2 linked regions of the Homo sapiens genome follow. The protein of the gene in region 1 interacts with the protein of each later gene in a biochemical or structural test. Each region holds a gene or a part of one and is shown in the gene's direction. Other genes may lie near its edges.

Region 1 (3,818 bases):
GCCCTGCAGACCGTCAACATCAGCATCACCTGGGAGCTTGTTGGAAATGCAGAATCTTGGTCCAAGATGGATCAGCATTTTTATCCAGGATTCTGCATTTCTAACAAGCTCTGATGCCAGTGCTGTCGGTCCATGGACTGCACTGACTAGCATGGTGTTACAGTACTTTCCTCAAGCTGGTTCTTTTGCTGTCCCACCATCAAAGGAGTGGAAGATTGCGGTTGTGTTTTCTGTGCCTTCAGATACACAGCCTAATGTAGATATGACAGATGTGCCTTTTTATAATATAACCTGGTGCAGACTGCAGTTTAATCCATCTGTCAGCATTCAAAGCATCTGGGATAGAATGTGTAAAGGCTGACTGATGATAATAAGATAGCCAAGAAGTTAGGCCGGGCGCAGTGGCTCATGCCTGTAATCCCAGCACTTTGGGAGGCCAAGGCGGGTGGGTCACGAGGTCAGGAGTTCAAGACCAGCCTGGCCAACATAGTGAAACCCCATCTCTACTAAAAATACAAAAATTAGCCAGGCATGGTGGCGCTCACCTGTAGTCCCAGCTACTTGGGAGGCTGAGGCAGGAGAATCACTTGAGCCCGGGAGGCGGAAGTTGTGGTGCTGAGATCATACCACTGCACTCCAGCCTGGGCAACAGAGTAAGACTCTGTCTCAAAAAAAAAAAAAAAATGGTGAGCCAACCTGAGGTAGTTGGAAAGAGAAGAGATACTTGCTAGATACTTCGCATGCCTAATGCAAATGCATTAACGGTTCATCATTTAGTAATTAGGAGGGGCTAGGACCTCTTTAAGCGGAGTTAGAAGGTTATTATAGCAGCCCAGATGGAAGTTAATGAGGCCTGAACTTAGGTAGGAGAAGCTGTATTTAGGATTGTTTTCAACAACGTTGTTTTCAATGTTGTCCTAAATAGGACATTAGGAATGTTGAAAACATTGGGAAGGTTGAAAATCAAACAAATCAACATTAGGAATGTTGAAAATCAAATTAGTAGTTGTGGCAGAAGTGGGAGATAATCTAGGTTGATGCTCAGGTTATTGGCTTTGGGAACTGTGTGGATAGGCTCACCTAGAGATTACAGGAAGAAGATCAATTTGAGATCTATGTTTCACTTTGGATAGATGGAGAGGGATATTGGTGTAACCTGTCTGGTAGGTATTGAGGTGCACAGTCCTGGAGCTCCAGAGGGGAATCTGGCTGGAGCTGCATAGACACTAGTGAAGCCAACTCAGCAATATATATGAAGCTATAGGTGTGGATCCAATCATTCAGAGAGAATGTTCCAGGTGAGAAGAGCCAAGCACCAAACATGGGGCCCTTTGAATGAAAGAAGAACCCTCTCTGGAAGCTTTTGAAGGGACATCAGAGAGGTAGTCACCATGAGATCCTAGAGAGTGCTTTAGGATTGAATTTTATTTTGCTTTTCAAAAGCTTAAAGGTGATACTCTTAACAAGTTTCATAAGGTTTTTCATTGTCATTGTCTTTGATGATGGTGAGATAGCTCTTTGTTTTTGTTATTGTTTGTTGGTTTCTAACTTACCAGTTTGTTCTGTGCATTTTTAAGGTCCTTAAAATTCTAGTCAGGGCAGTGATTGATGGGATGACTGATCGAAGTGGAGATGTTGCAACTGGCCTCAAAGGAAAGCTGCAGGAGTTATTTGGCAGAGTGACTTCAAGAGTGACAAATGATGGAGAAATCTGGAGGCTGTATGCCCACGTATATGGAAATGGGCAGAGTGAAAAGCCTGATGAAAATGAAAAGGCAAGTCCTTCATTCCTCCTGAGTCCTTGCCTTTCGTTTGAACATGTTGTAGTAGATCTACTTTTTTGATGGGTGGAGGAAGAGTTTAACAATCTGAAAGATAAGATTAGTATGCTTAAGTTCAGTTCTGATTCAGTCTTTAACCTACGTACTTTGAATTGTGGGCTGGTTAAAACTTGTAACATTCATCTTTTTATTTACCATGAAGTTTTCTTACATAGTTGTTCCCTGTTTCCTGCAAAAGGGCCTCTTGAAATGGCCACCCCTACTAAATCTGCAGCAGAGTTGGCTTTTGTTATTTACTCCATACCCCTTTCTGCAGGCACCTTGCTAAAGACTACAGTAGATGGGTACAAGGAGAGAAGGAGTATTTAGATCTGAGATGGGGATTAGGAAAAGAAAAGAGAAAAATGAACAAGATAAAGATCTTGGAAGAGAACTTTTAAGTCAAAACATAATACTTTTACAAAGGTTGCCCTGCCCTTTCTCACAAGTGCGATAGAACACCAGTTCCACTCAAGTTATGCCTTTAGCCTCTTATCTTAGAACTTAAAGGAGCCTGCAGAGTTTCCAAAGTTGGAATAATTGTTTTATGTTTCTTTTCAAAACACCCACAACAAATCAAATGTACTCCTTGCGTGGGTTTGGAATTAGCCACGGCACAGCTAATCTGTGGGATTCTTAGCCATTCTCTCCTCCCTCAATCCACACAGCTGGCTTCCACCGTGGCCTTGTCAGCCCAGAGAACGTGTATCACCTGCACACATGCACACCCTACTTTCATGTCCTTCCATTTCTCCTTGAATTATGGACTTTCTTGCATATATGGAATTAAGAGTACCCAGAATTCTCTGACCTGTGACTTCTCCCTCAAGGATTTGAAAGAGGGTGCATTAAACATCTGTGAGATTACATATATCTACCAGCAGTTTCATTGTTTTAACCAAGTTCATGCCTCATTCTCTAAACAGGTTTTTTAAACTGATGGCTACAAATGCTGAGAAAATCTGTATATTTACAGATTTCCAAACCTGGCCTTTATATCTTTCTGGTTACAGGGAAGTGTCTCAATCCAGGTACATCCATTTGATTTCTTGCCACGGCTTGTTGCCGTTGGGTGTGCATTTCCACCCCTTCTTTGGTGAGAGTAATAGACGCTGTGCTGTACAACACAGATGCTGCTTTTTCACATTGGAATTAGTTCCATATGACTTCCAGGAAACAGAGTTTGAAATGTGAATTCTACTTGTTATTCTGAATGTTGTTCTTTCTCCTTCCTCAGGCATTCCAGTGCCTCTCAAAGGCATACAAGTGTGACACCCAGTCCAATTGTTGGGAGAAAGATATTACATCATTTAAGGAAGTTGTTCAAAGAGCCTTAGGACTTGCACATGGTATTTGATGTAACATTTGATATCCATGGAATGTTTTGACTTATTTTCTACTGACAGAAAAGAGTGTTGGTCAAAAGTAAAGTTCCATTATAAATAGTATCAAATTATTTCATTATATTGACATTGTTGTATTTAATTCAGCAAACATTCATAGACCACCTACTATGTAATAGGCATTTTGAAATAAGAAGAAGAAACAGGATAGAGGCTTATATTCTGTTGGAGTAAGTAACAGAAATTGGAAACTTTTTTAGAGATGTGAAACATCTTTACAACTTTGTATAACCTTCATTCCACACTGAGTTTCACTGTATTGATTACATAGCATTAAGGAAATCTGTTAATTTTAACTTGACTCACACATAGATCTCTGGGGTACATAGCAGTATGCAGAGCTGTAGCATATACAAAAGAAATATAAAATAAAAGCCTTATCTTTGGGAAATGGTAGAGGATATTGTTTGAGGAAAGGTTTAACCTTACATATAAAATTATATGCCTGTTGGGTAAATATAGTCCAAATAAGCATTGCTTTTAGTTATTAATTTTTAAAAATGCCAGTTAAATTTGGTAATGCATTTTTATATTTATATTTGAATATGGGTGTGTGATGCAGTTCCAATAAAATAATGATGCCCCCAATGTTAAG
Region 2 (3,818 bases), on another chromosome or scaffold:
TGCTCTCCTTCTCCCAGTCTTGATCAGTCACTACACTTTGCAGTCCTGGTCCCTAACTCTTGGGGTTCCAGGGTTATTCATTGTCCTTACTCCTGTGGAGTTGAGTTTCTGAGGACGCAAATACTGAATAAGGCACGAGATGACCAGGCCAGAGAAGGGCAAGCCTAATTTCCATTGGCTGAGCCTAGTAAACAAGCCCAGTTCAAGATGGTGCATGTTCTAGCCTTCTATGGCTATGTAAAAAACTATCCCAGACCCAGTGGGGTGTAGCTTGGGTTCCCTGGGAAGCAGACTCTGAGATGGAGAAGAGTGTGCATGGTGTTTATTAAGAACTATACTTAGGATCAAGATTTGGAGAAGAGGAGAAGGGGGCAGGAATGGGTTTAGTGGCAGCCCCAGTTGGCCAACAGGGAGTTCTGGGGCCAGAATGACCCTTGAGAGTTGCCCCAGGTTGGGCTGTGATGACCTAGTCTTTATATCAGGGATCAGCAAGTTATGGCCTATAGGCCAAACCCAGGTTGCCACCTATTTTTTAACTAAAGTTTTATTGGAACACAGCCACACCCATCATGTACATGTCATCTGTGGCTGCTTTCATGATACATTAGCAGAGCTGAGTAGTTGGGACAGACTGCAAGGCTGGCAAAGCCTAAAATATTTAGGATCTGCCCTTGATGGAAGTTTGGCAGGCCCTGTTATGTTCCCTCATTGATCAGTTGCTGAATGGACAGTCTCTGACCTCTGTGGCCTCGGCTGCGCTGGAGGGTCCCCTTCTAAGGTGCCTTCCTTGCTCGAGGCTCCTTGGCCTTGTTCTCCAAGGACATCTCTTCTTCCTGGGTTTCTCCACGTGGCACAGTGGTTTGGCATCGTCGTACTTCTTGCATCTTACCTGAGGGCTTCAGGAGGTGGGACCTGGAGGCCCCCAGTCCATGAAAAGCCACAGCAGGGCTGGCAAAATCACTTGTGCCATTGGTCAAAGTGATCATGGGGCCTGCCCAGATTCAAGAGATGGAGCCACAGATGCCGCCCACTGCCTGAAGGAGGATGGCACAATCACGGTGCAGAAGAGCATGAGGATGAGATGCTGTCAGACCGTCTTCGGAAAAATGTGGAACACCATGGCAGGCCAGGTGGCTGCTCGGCAGTGCCGTGTCAATCCCAGCTCACCCAGGTCACCGCTGCAGTGCCTGTCCCTCCCCAACTCCACCCACGGTCCCTGACATCACGTGGGGAGGGAGTTTGAGATGGCCATGGTGGGAATGTGACACCTCGGGAATGGGCTCTACCCACCCCAACGCCAAAGAACCTGCTGCACACCCCTGCTGCCATGGGAGGACTTCTGGTTTGAAGCCACATGGGAAGAAAGACAGCAGCATTTATTGAGCACTAAGGGTCGCTACATGTCCTGGAACCTCAGGATGACTCCGTAAGCTATGATGTTACCCTTTATTTTATAGAAGGGGAGTCAGAGGCTCAGCAAGGTTGGAGGCCCTGGCAGGATTTGAACCATGGTCCCCTCGTTTTTGCCATCCTGCCTCACAGAAGACGGAGCTGGCAGGAGAAGGAGATCCTGGGTCTGAAGAAAGCTTAGGTTGGCAGGGAGGGAGAGAAAGCTGGCCAGAGAAGAGCGGGCAAAGCCTGAGGCCAGGGCAGCATGGGGTTGCCAGAAGGCTGGACAGTGGAGTCCCTGGAAAGGACTCAGGGCCAGCAGACTGCGCCAGCTGTGTGGGTGCTGGAAGATTCACCCCAACCAGGCAGCCAAACTCCTGACGTTTCTCATTGTCTGAAAAATGCATCTCTGTACTCTAAGACAACACAAGCAGAATGCGAGTGAGGTGGGCTCGGGAGGCCCTGAAGAGGGCCACGGAGAGAAAGCCGGCGGCTGGGCACCACATTCACAGCAGAAGTTTCAGTTCCTTCCCCTCACCTTCTTCCTGGGAAGCACAGTGGTTAGGCTCAACCAATGGACCAGTTTTAGGAGGAGGAGCGGGCAGGAAGGGGCTTTCATATTGGATCCTGTAGGAAGCAGTGGTATGCTACAGGGGTGACAGTGGCCTTCTTTATAACAACACTCGTTCCCGCAAGCTGGACCTTACCCACGTGCCAGCCTTGCCAGTTACACATGTCTATTACCTTTCATCCTCATAACCTTCAAGGGAAGAGGTCTTATGACTCCTCTTTGGGGAAATGAGGCTCAAGAGAAGGGGTAACCTTCCGGGTTTCAGGGTGAGCGCGTGGCAGAAGTTAAGACTTGGACTGGATGCAGGCACTTGACTTCTCCACATCACGTGGCCACGGTGCCTGAGTCAGCCCAGTGGTGCGGGGCGCCCCAGAGAGCACAGAAGCCAGGGCTGGAGACCCAGGTGTGATGGGAGAGCTTTCTTTGGGTGAGGTTGGTTCACAATCTCCCACTTTTTCCCCCCTATAGTTGAAGGATTTTCTCTCCCCGTTGTTTGTTTTAAGAATAAGATGCAAAAGTGAGAAGCGGGAGGCCTTGCCTTGTTCCGTGGGCAGACAGTGTGGGGGCTGTGAGGCCAAGGACACCTGGGAGGGGAGAGGGTGGGGGCAGACTGCATCTCCCAAGAGCAGGGTGGGGAGTGCAGGGAAGGGTCAGGAGGAGAGCAAGGCCACTGCTGAGGCAGGGTCCATGTAGGACACCTTTCGCTTGGACTCCTGGATGTCCTGGCTGGGCCCAGGCCCTGCTGTGTCCCCTGGAGGATAGGGGAGGCCTGTGGACTGCTCACAGGAGGGTGTGGCTACCTCTGCCAGGCCCCTGGGGATAGGAGAGTCACTCCACCATCCCCGTAAACCAGTGGGAGGCCCTGCAGCAGGAGCGTGGAATTAAGACGTGGGAAAATGGTCTCAGTTTTTCAGGTGCTTGTTAAAGATGCTGAGTTTTCTGGTCACCATTCTTGGAAGCCCTCACACAGCAGATTGAAAGTGAGGCTCAGAATCTTCATTTTTAAAGCATCCTCAAATAATTCTGATACCCATGGACTCTAGACCGTGCTAAGGAAAACACTGACCTGGAGGGTGAAGGCATGTGGGATCTGAAACTTTTAAGAAAACAGCTTTTTTGTCATTCTTATCTGATCTTATGAGCACCAATTTTCTTACTCTGAATGGATGTAGATGTGGAAGGTATAATGTTTGGGGAGCGCTCTTGCCCTAAGAGAGATAATGAATACAGCAGTTTGTGCATAATTGCACTTAATTATTATGTTGTGAATATATGGTTAAACTTGATAAAGATTAACTTATAAAAACTCTTATTAAAACTTCCCTGTTATTTGCCATTCATCGCTATCGTGGAGTTTTTAGGGGAGCTTGTTCGTCCATCCACCTGATAAAGTTTTGAATGCATGCTGTGTGCCTGGCTCTGGCGGGGAGTGGGGCATACAGCAGTAGCCAATAGCTGGGGTGGGAGGTTCTGACCACTCCCCTCCACCCACTTACAGTCTGGACAGAGAAATAAACTAAAAAAATCCGCAACCAACAACATACATTTTGCTTTTTTTGTAAATGTATTCTTTTTTTTTGTTTTTTTGAGACAGTCTCGCTCTGTCACCAGGCTGAAGGGCAGTGGCACAATCTTGGCTCACTGCCACCTCCGTCTCCCAGGTTCAAGTGATTCTCCTGCCTCAGTCTCCCGAGTAGCTGAGACTACAGGCACACGTCACCATGCCCAGTTGTTTTTTGTATTTTTAGTAGAGACGGTGTTTCTCCATGTTGGCCAGGATGGTCTCGATCTCTTGACCTTGTGATCCGCCCGCCTCAGCCTCCCAAAGTGCTGGGATTACAGGTGTGAGCCATTGCGC

What was found.
Region 2: the proteins of TTC27 (region 1) and DAPK1 form a complex in vitro, tested with the Homo sapiens proteins (one large-scale study listed by BioGRID and IntAct).

What each region holds. Positions count from the first base shown.
Region 1 is NC_000002.12:32,809,447-32,813,264, forward strand, and holds part of TTC27 (tetratricopeptide repeat protein 27), read left to right. Parts: intron 1-1,577; coding exon 1,578-1,775; intron 1,776-3,057; coding exon 3,058-3,169; intron 3,170-3,818.
Region 2 is NC_000009.12:87,633,568-87,637,385, forward strand, and holds part of DAPK1 (death-associated protein kinase 1), read left to right. Parts: intron 1-3,818. UniProt on the Homo sapiens protein: Calcium/calmodulin-dependent serine/threonine kinase involved in multiple cellular signaling pathways that trigger cell survival, apoptosis, and autophagy.